3 separate regions of the Homo sapiens genome follow, and regions 1 and 3 are each reported to be linked to region 2. The links are microRNA targets in miRTarBase. Many come from high-throughput screens and were not tested one by one. Region 2 holds a microRNA gene; each other region holds the end of a gene's coding sequence.

Evidence for each region. Region 2 holds the annotated microRNA hsa-miR-6817-3p (UCUCUCUGACUCCAUGGCA, at 2,235-2,253, opposite strand). A microRNA usually pairs through its seed, bases 2 to 8, with sites in the 3' UTR of a target mRNA and lowers its output. Matches are read on the target gene's strand: a 7mer-m8 pairs with bases 2 to 8, a 7mer-A1 pairs with bases 2 to 7 and ends in A, and an 8mer does both.
Region 1: the mRNA of LHX9 is a reported target of hsa-miR-6817-3p. Seed matches in the 3' UTR shown: 7mer-A1 at 3,099-3,105, 7mer-A1 at 3,101-3,107, 7mer-A1 at 3,103-3,109, 7mer-A1 at 3,105-3,111 and 7mer-A1 at 3,107-3,113.
Region 3: miRTarBase lists C1orf115 as a target of hsa-miR-6817-3p. Seed matches in the 3' UTR shown: 7mer-A1 at 1,457-1,463 and 7mer-A1 at 1,570-1,576.

Annotation. Positions count from the first base shown.
Region 1 is chr1:197,928,987-197,932,122 of GRCh38, forward strand. It overlaps LHX9 (LIM homeobox 9), which reads left to right. Exons shown (of 5, transcript NM_020204.3): 5 at 16-3,136. The coding sequence ends at 273. Among named protein-coding and RNA genes, the nearest start is that of LHX9, 13 kb to the left of the region's middle.
Region 2 is chr22:25,454,806-25,457,944 of GRCh38, reverse strand. It overlaps MIR6817 (microRNA 6817), which reads right to left and starts at 2,299; the gene lies at 2,234-2,299. It also overlaps the pseudogene CRYBB2P1. RefSeq lists an enhancer at 2,129-2,232.
Region 3 is chr1:220,696,218-220,699,356 of GRCh38, forward strand. C1orf115 (chromosome 1 open reading frame 115) reads left to right here. Exons shown (of 2, transcript NM_024709.5): 2 at 395-2,936. The coding sequence ends at 514. Among named protein-coding and RNA genes, the nearest start is that of C1orf115, 7.4 kb to the left of the region's middle. RefSeq lists an enhancer at 188-1,387.

The DNA of each region.
Region 1 (3,136 bases), not on the chromosome of region 2:
GGGATTGGTTTGCAGGTTTGGTTCCAAAACGCACGAGCCAAATTCAGAAGGAACCTTTTGCGGCAGGAGAATGGGGGTGTTGATAAAGCTGACGGCACGTCGCTTCCGGCCCCGCCCTCAGCAGACAGCGGAGCTCTCACTCCACCCGGCACTGCGACCACTTTAACAGACCTGACCAATCCCACTATCACTGTAGTGACATCCGTGACCTCTAACATGGACAGCCACGAATCCGGAAGCCCCTCACAAACTACCTTAACAAACCTTTTCTAACATTGGTTTTTTTTTTTTAGTTTTTAAATTCTTCCTCTTCTTTTTATTATTATTCTAATTATTATTATTTTATTATTTACAAGACTTTTTTTTTCTTCTAACCCACAAGATATTTGGGGAATAAAAATAACAGCTTGGTGTGTAGCATCTGCAGCCACTTGGCAAATGAGTTTACAGTATTGTCTCCTTTAAGTGAATATATTTTGTCTACAAAGTGTATTTGGATTTAAAAAAATTAATTAGGTCTTTCAGTTGGTAAGGAGAGTTTTTGAATAATTCTAATAAGTGCCTCTTAAAATTGTATGTTACTTATTTCCAGAATCTCGAAGAAAAAAGAAAAAAGAGTGGTATTATTATGGGCAAATAATCATATTCCCACTTAAATGATTAGGTTAATAAAGAACCAGATAATTAATTAGTTACTTTTTAAATCTTGCAATTGTATGTGTGATTATGGAGTTTTGAAAACGTTACATTTTTTAAATCTTAAAACTGAAAACTTGTTTTTAGTATTTCTATTTCTTACCTGAACTGTTAATTCAAGTGAGGAATATGATGAAATAAAAGCATTAACTACAGACATTTTAAATAGTAATGATTAATTAGGTGAGAAATCTATTACAGGAATGTGACTTTTCCTTCTCTTAGGGGTGTACAACTCTAAAAACTTTTTACTTGGTTATTTGTTTTTCAACATTTGAAAAATACTTAAGCTCCCTATGTATCCATGAAAATTCCGCATTGATTTTGACATTCCATACTTTTAACCTCCTAAAGCTAAAAACAATAGCTCGGAAACCATTCTTTCTAGTTACTTTTTTTCCCAGGGAAAATGGAAATAAGCAAAATATAATGTTTTAAGAAGTAAAAAAATCAATATAATTTAATTAATAGCTCTATTAATTGGCTTCAGCTGTACCATGATATTGTATCTGGCATTCTATATGAATAATGTTTAAAATACCCAGCCTGGTAGACTTATACCAACAATTGGTTTTGTTTTGTTTTATTTTATTTTGACATAGGTTGACTTATGTATTGAAAATAATTTTTCTGATATTAGAGATTTGAAGTTATTAGTCTTAAAGTAGATAAACTCAGAAGCCTTGTGGATGCTGATCTGAATATATTTCCTAGTTTACAGTAGCATTTTTTTCTTTTAATTTAAGCTAAAATCTTAATGGTCTGGGCAGTGGTGAATGTTCATCTATTACGCTTCTGTTGTAGTTAAATACCAATTAGATTGTGGATTTCCTAAAAAAATAAAAAAGAAGTCAAGATATATGTCTTGCTTTAGTGGATTGTTAAGAATAACTTTGCACATATTTTCCACTTTTTGGACCCCTTAAATCTCCTTTGGTGGTCGAAGTGGCTATTTAATAGATTTTAAAGGTGTCCTTCTGGCTGTATAAATGTGTGGTTACATATTGACAGTTCACTGCCCACATTAAAGTGCATTATTGTAACTTTTGCTCAGGGTCTTTAGAAAATTAGCACAGAAAGTAGCTTATTTTTTAAAAAAAGATGATGGAAGATAAGTTAACACTGTAACAGAAGAAAGGTGTGATTGCCATTATATATTTAGCAAGTATGGTTATCATCTTATATGGAGCTTAAATCTTGACTTTTCATACTTCTATTACATTTTGGGCATTTACCACTAACCAGACCAAACAACCTTGGTAAGGCTGAGATCTTATTAATACACTTTTACAGGTAAAATATTGACACTTATAAATTTTGTTCTTTGACAGAACAATATATGGTACTATATAGATCTACTTTATTAAGTAGACTAATTATAACTCAGTTCTCCTATGTGCCTTATGATATAACTTGGAAGTAAGTTTGTGAAAAATCAGGATATATGTGTTGTTTGTTAAATTAACTGTTTTAAGCCCTTTTAACACCTCACTAGTTTTGTACTGTTTTACCTCTTATTTCTGAAACTCTTTTTATGGTGTATCCTGTTAGAGGGGACAAACATGTCATAGAAAGCAGTTGTGCACTCTTTCAAATATAGTTGATAAATTCAATAATCTTATATATTGAGCTTCGTGTTTATAGTACAGTAAGTGGTCTAGCAAAATTGTCCATGTTTCTTTGTTTATTGATAAATGCATTGTATAGAAACTATTTCCCCTAAATATTTATGGACCAAACAATTGTGATATATCCTATTAAATTTGTGTGAATAAAACATTTTGAATCTAAGGAGTTTTCTTTCCCATCAGTTTTATTTAAGTTTTAACCGTACTAGTGTGTTCCAGCATCTATATGTAAAAGCTTTTCAAATGGTAATACAACATTGTTAGAAATATTTAAACATACAAATAGTTTTTAGACTTCCAAACTTCTGATTCATATGAAATGTTACACATTGTTGCACAGGCAGTGTAATTCAACCTAGAAATACCTTTGAATATATTTGCTTATAACAAAAGTAATGCCCCACTGATTTGACTCAGTCCAATTTTTAGAATAAAAAGGCTAATTAGCATATAAAGTAATTGCATGGAACGAAACCTTAAATATGATTAAGATTTCATGTTAGGTCTATTGAGCACAAATGGATATTTGTAAATCTAAATAGAAATTGCAGACCCCTAAAAGCCAAGTTGCTCTGTAGTTAATAAATTGTCACTATGATTTTTTTCAGGGAGAACAAATCTTGGGGCATTACAGCCAAACATCCCGACGTTTGAAAATTCCCTAAAGTATTAAAAGAAGGGGAAAAGTTTGATCGGAAATCCACTGCAGTGAAGACAAAGACACTATTAGGTTATGATAATCATACATTAAAAAATTTATTAAGCCAAAAAAAAAGAGAGAGAGAGAGACTTAAATGTCATTTACTGAATGT
Region 2 (3,139 bases):
CACCGCTGCCCAAAGCTCATCTGTGGACCCCCATGGAATCCAAATTTTTTACCATGAGAAATCCCTCACTGCTGATGGCCAGGGTCGATGTGCCCAGGAACTTCGATTCAGTGGAAAATGACACCTCCTGTTCCCAAACTTAGGGACACAAGTGGTCAAAGGCAGCATGGGCTGGTCCTCCTGCTTCTCATAGCTTTCAGACTACTCAACTCATTCCTTCCCTCCTGCCTCAACCTAATCCTCCCTCTGCCTCAACTTGCCCCTCTGACATACATGTCTTGCTCACTGGGGCTGAGGTTAAGGCCAAGGTTTCTCCACTCCAAAGGCATACCATTTCCCCAAAGGCAGCTCTAGAAAGAAATTCAGCGGCTGTAAGCCACCTATGGGCAGAGAATTCCCATTTACTTTCCAGTGGGAAGCCAGAGGTCAGCAGAGCACATTGATGTGTGCAAGATCACCAGTGTGTACAGGGCAGAGCAGGACTTAGGACCCCAGAGTCTCAGTTCCTGGGGCAGGGTGAGCCAGGGCTGGCAATGCACTTACATGCCACTCCGCACCCACACAGATGACACCTTCTCCTGGTAGCCATGGGCGTGGAAGCTGGGTACATCGTCATCTATGATTTCCATCTTCTTCCCGGTGAAGTTGGGGTTTTCATAGAGGATGATCTTGTGCTCTTGGCTGTCCTATTGGCAGAGGATGGGGGGAAGTGAGTATGGGTGAGGGGGCCCAGGGTTGGCCTTCCCACCCCATGCTCATGCCCCAGAGTTGGGATCAGCATGTCCCACACATCACTCTCTTCCCAATGCACCCACTACGTGTCTATGACCACTGCTGTTGGATCACAGCCGTTTGTTAAGTTTCTACTGGGCCATTTTCATGTAACAGACACTCTGCAACACTTTGGGGAATGTTTGATTCTGAAATGTCATTTTTTCCTCCTCAAGTTTCTCTTTTATAAATGGTGGCTACGATCTACCTACCCACCCACATATGAACACCCACACATACACACACACGCACACCCACACAAGCGTGCACACATACAGGCACACACGCACACTTGCACACACACACGCGCGCGCACACGTGCACACCCACACATGTACACACACATGCACACCCACACATGTGTGCACACACGTGCACACTTGCACACACACACGTGCACACACATGCACACCCACACATGTACACACACACATGCACAGGCTAACTGTGCCTCTAATAGGCACCTGAGATACTTTGATTTTTCTTCATTTCTACATCTCTTCCCATCCTCCTGTCCCTATGACATTTTCCTTAGTTATCTCATCTCATCCTTTACACATAAAACCCTTATCCCTCAGACATAAAATCCTCTTATGCCATTTAGCAGATGAGGAAAGTGCGGCACAGAGAGGTCAAATGACGTGCTCAAGGCCACACAGCTGGGAGCAGCACAGCCAACTTGGGAACCCAGGTCTGTGGGGTGCAAAGTCCAGTGTTCTCCAACCTTCCAGTAGGTCCTGGGAGGAGCTAGACTGGGCTTGGAGGGTTTGAGAGTGTAACTGAGCAGTGATGGGCCCTGTCCCCTTCCTGAGAGTTGACACTCTCACACACTAGTAAGAATCAGGATCTCAGAAGCACTGAAAACTCACACTGGCACGAGTCTTGAAGAAGAGCTAAACCACCTTCTCCTCCAGCCCCAAACTCATAATTTCTTGTAGTATTTCTGATGGCTATTGGTTATTGAGCAATGACGGGAGTTGCCCAACCCTTGGGCGCGGGGGGCGGGCACCAACCACCTAAAATAGAATGTGAATAGTGCCCTCTGGAGCATTTCATAGTCTTGTGATTGGAGCCTTCTGGAGTTGCAGTGTGACAACCCTCAAGCTAATAAGCACATTGGAACCTCAGGACAGTAGATACCAATATGCCCATTTTACAGATGAAGAAACTGAGGCTCAGGGAAGTAAAATGACTTTTGCAAGGTCACCCAGTGAGGAGGTTCCTCACCAATCAGAAGGGGCACAATGCTAGAGGGGCGGGCTCCTTCCTGGTCCCAGGACCTCCTGCTCCAAGGTGGCAGAGAGAGAAAGTAGGATGATGGCAGGGGGCTCACCACTTTGATGGGCCTCAGGCTGCTGAGTCTGTCCTCTGGCTGCTGGTCCACCAGTCCCAGTGGGCGTACTCGCCCTTCTCAAACACAAACTGCTCGCCCTTGCAGTTGGCCTGTTCATAGCTCACCCAGCTGCCATGGAGTCAGAGAGAAAGGGGGCAGGTCAGTTCCACTCCAAGCTTCCTATGGCAGAATCCTGGCTACTGATGTTGACCCCTAGGGTTCACTCTTGCCCAGCCCGGCAAGATGTAATAGCCCCACCCAAACCTTAGCACAGCAAATCCAAGTGCAAAATCCCCTCAGTTATCTAGAACTCAGTGCTATGCTGCCTTTACCCACCTGGAACACAGTTAAGAAATAAGAAGGCAGTCTAAATAACGGCCCAGCAACAAATACCAATATATAGACGCCATGCACTAAAGCCAATAGTATGCTGGTAAGTTAATAGCCAACTCTCAAAAAACAAAACGAAAATTAACACTCTTGATTTGCAGCGTTTGCCAATTTCCATGGTGTAAATGCTCCCACTGTGGCAGATTTCAAGCTATCAATACGACACGGCTGCAAGTGAAGTTAGGAAGAGAGATGCACAGTCAGCCTTCACCACTGAGAACTGACTCTAGAACATCTCTGGGCCCAAAGCCCCTCTCTTTGGATCTGTTTCTTCTCTTGTTCCTGTTGTTAGACTCTGCCCAAACTCTGTTTTTGTAGATCCACATTAGAAGAAAAATAGTACATTAAAGAGGAAGGGATGGCTTTCAGGTCGGGCATGGCTAATAGAAGAAAGCAGAAAATAGAAGAAAGAAGGCACAAATCTCAAAATGATTAGCATTCTGGGACCAACCAGTGCAGAGGCGAACATTTCAGCAATGTGCAATAATGGCTTTTCAGAGGAATGATCTAAGTCATTAACAAAAGAGGAGATCATGTTTATTATCCTCTTTTGGAAAAGTAGTCTTGATCCAGCAATTCTACTTCAGGCAATGGTTCCTTACAAAACAGTTGTCAAGGGGCTGGGCACTGTGGCTTATGCCTATA
Region 3 (3,139 bases), not on the chromosome of region 2:
CCCAGCCTTCTGACGGTCCAGTAATTTTTAGCTGGAACAGAGAAGAGGAGTGATCTTTGGTTTAAAAAACAAAATAAAACTGCTTTAGTTTTAGAATTAGCAGCCTTACTGCTGTTTCCAAGAAGGTCTTTGAATTATCTGGAAATAAGCTGTGCTTGAAAGCACTTTGCAAGGTGATGATGTCTGCTGTGAGCCGCTACATATTCTTAGGCTGGAGGTGGGCACCTTCCACCAGAGATGTGGGAATGTGGTAACTTGCTGATTTGTCACAAGAGAATCAGGAAAAATGATCTTTATATATGTCGCCGTGACTCATTTTTTTTCATGAAAGATGGCAGAATTAAAAAGTTGCCTACCCTAATCCTTTGCTTTTCTCTTTTATTCCTAACACTAGAATGTCGGGAAGGTCATCATCAAAGGATGCCGCTACGTGGTCATCGGCCTGCAAGGCTTCGCTGCAGCCTACTCCGCCCCGTTTGCGGTAGCCACCAGCGTGGTATCCTTCGTGCGCTAATGGGAGCTGCTGTGGCAGGTGCCCCCAGAGTGAACGGGAGCCCCTGCTGTGGGAACTTTGTGAATCCTGGAGCATCTCAGACTTGAACACACAGCATATTTGGAAGAGAAAACATGCCTTTCTTTGTTGAATCACATTAGTATGATGAGTGAGTCATCCCTGCCCATCTGCTGAGCTTCTCACATCTCTCAGTCACACGTGGACCCAGTGGTCAATCCTGCAGAGAATTCGGCGGAGGTTAGGTTTGGGAGTGGAGCTAGCGTGCTAAAGCCAGAGCCTTCACGTGAAGGTGGCAGGCACTGGGGCGGAAGCCAACACTCAACAGATGCAAGCAGTGTGGGTGTGCAGCAGAACAGTGATCTTGGGGGAGGAAGAGGATGTTACTAGAGTCAGATGATTTGCTGTATTCTCCTGAAAGGTCGTAGGCTGACAGGCGCTCACATTCCTTGGCTGCCTCGGTTCTGAGGGCAGCTAAGGAGCTGTTTATTCCTCAAGTCATGCTCCCCGATCTCCTTCCTCTACCACTCTGTCACCAGGAGTTTAATTACAGGCTTGAGGAGAAGAAAGGAAGAAAAGATATCTTGATGCTTTGAAAACTGTGTTGGCAGTGTGGCATGACTGTTTAAAGTAGATAAAACCTTGTCATTTTACCCCATCCCTGCATGACTGTGAAGCTGGCGAGGAAGGAGGAAGAAGGGCAAGTTCAGATGCAGGCTGGGTGGCTGGGACAGGTTGGCTAAGGGACTACTCTGGAGGGCTCTTCTGCCTGGCATTGCCCACTTCGGCCCAGCCACGTGTTTGCAGCGACCAGAGTCCCTGCAAAGGTGTGGCTGGCTGTGGTCAGGGTGCTACTAGCACCATCAGCGCACTCCCGCCATTGGCTCAGCTCCTCTCTGCCAGTCCAACTAAGAGTGCTTTGTCCTGGGTGGGACATAGGGGCTGAGAGAGATGGGGGGAGACATAACACCCAGGAATGAAAATACAGATTTAGAGAAGGAACCAGTAAGTAGGAGACAGATGTGAAGGAAATGGAAATGAGGCAAGAGGACATTGGAAGAGAGAAGTTTGCTGTCCAGGAGCCAGGTCTGGAGCATCAGTGTGAGGGAGTTCAGGTAGGCTGGGCCTGTGCCTCTAGGTAGGGACAAGGGAGGCTGGGTAGCCAGGGCTGGTGCTTAAAACCCCTGAGGCCATGAGCTCATTGGCTGCCTTTGTAGCATCCTGTCTTCTTCTGTGCTGCCTGGTTTGATCTCATCTCACCTGGATTCAAAGGGTAAGGTGGGCATGGGTCTTGGGCCTGACACCCACCAAGGATGACCTGTGGACTGCCATCGGATGCTGAACAGGGAGATGAAAGGAGGTCCTCTTACCATACCCCTCTGCCAACCCCCCAGTAGGCCACTGTTCTGACTTTGTTTCCAGAATATCCAGAAATCCAAAGGGGCTGTTGCTGAACAGTCTGCAGGACCAGTGACAGCACCTACCTGTTGTCCCAAGGCATACAAAGGAGGCCTCAACGCTCATGCTTCTCTAATCAAGCCCTACCAAGACAGACAGAAAGACAGACAGAAAAAAGGAAGGGGTAGAGGAGAAGGTTGAAGCTGTGGAGCTAGACTCTGCTTCACTTCCTGAAGCTTCAACTTCATGTCGAAGATTCACTGGGACCCAATTCCTGCATTGTTAATATTTGTGAGGAAAAGTGAAACAAGTGATCTGGTTTTAGCCCAGATGATGAAAGTGGATATGGCACATTTTCACACACGTGAGATAATTACAGCTTGCCCCACAACACTGGGTGTTGGAGAAAGGGAGAGATAGTCATAAGTGGAAGAAAAAGCCAAGCATAGTGAGTGGGAAAGAGAGTGAGAGCCTGTGCAGGCTGCTGACGAGCCCCAGGCAGCCCACAAGTTTCTCGTGGGGAGATGGAGGCAGAGCCCAGGGTAGGGGACAGAGCTGCTGGGGCCTTTCCTTGCCTGGGAATCTGTCCCAGGAAGAGCTTCCCCACTCCCATCCCCCAAATTGGAAAAACCGTACATTCAAGCCTGTTTGGCCCTGAAATTCTTAAGAATCTGGTTAAGAATTAACTCACTAATGTCAAAAGTCAAAACCTCCTAGGGGTTGTCCTGGGAGTCAGGTTCACGGGTACAGAAGATGAATCTCAGATGTCACTCAACCTGAGCCGTCATTCTCTGTGGCAGGGCTGCCCTGGGTTTCTCTTACTCAATCCCTGGAGTGTAAGCATTTGGATTGTGTCACAGATTACCTTTTTACCTTTTCTTTCTTTTTTTTTCTTTTTTTCAATATCAGTGCCCACACCTTACTGAGTATTGAGTTTTAGAGCTTTCGCTTGATGTGCTTGACCAAGAGACTTCTTTTGTATCCTTTTCTTGTCCTATGATGTAAATAAAAGCCTCGATTTATGTAATGTTTCTGGTGTGAAGGGTTCCCAGCTCCTCACTTTCTAGCCTTGCCTGAGGGAGATTCCTGGAGTCCAGCCACACTGAGAGCCTGGCACAGCAGGTGATGACCAGTCGGGAGAGACCTCCCTGGGAACCAGTAGGAGCCCACAGCTGCTCCCCAAGGACCCAGGGGAGGGAGAGACCCCAATTCACCTGGGAACTCTGCATG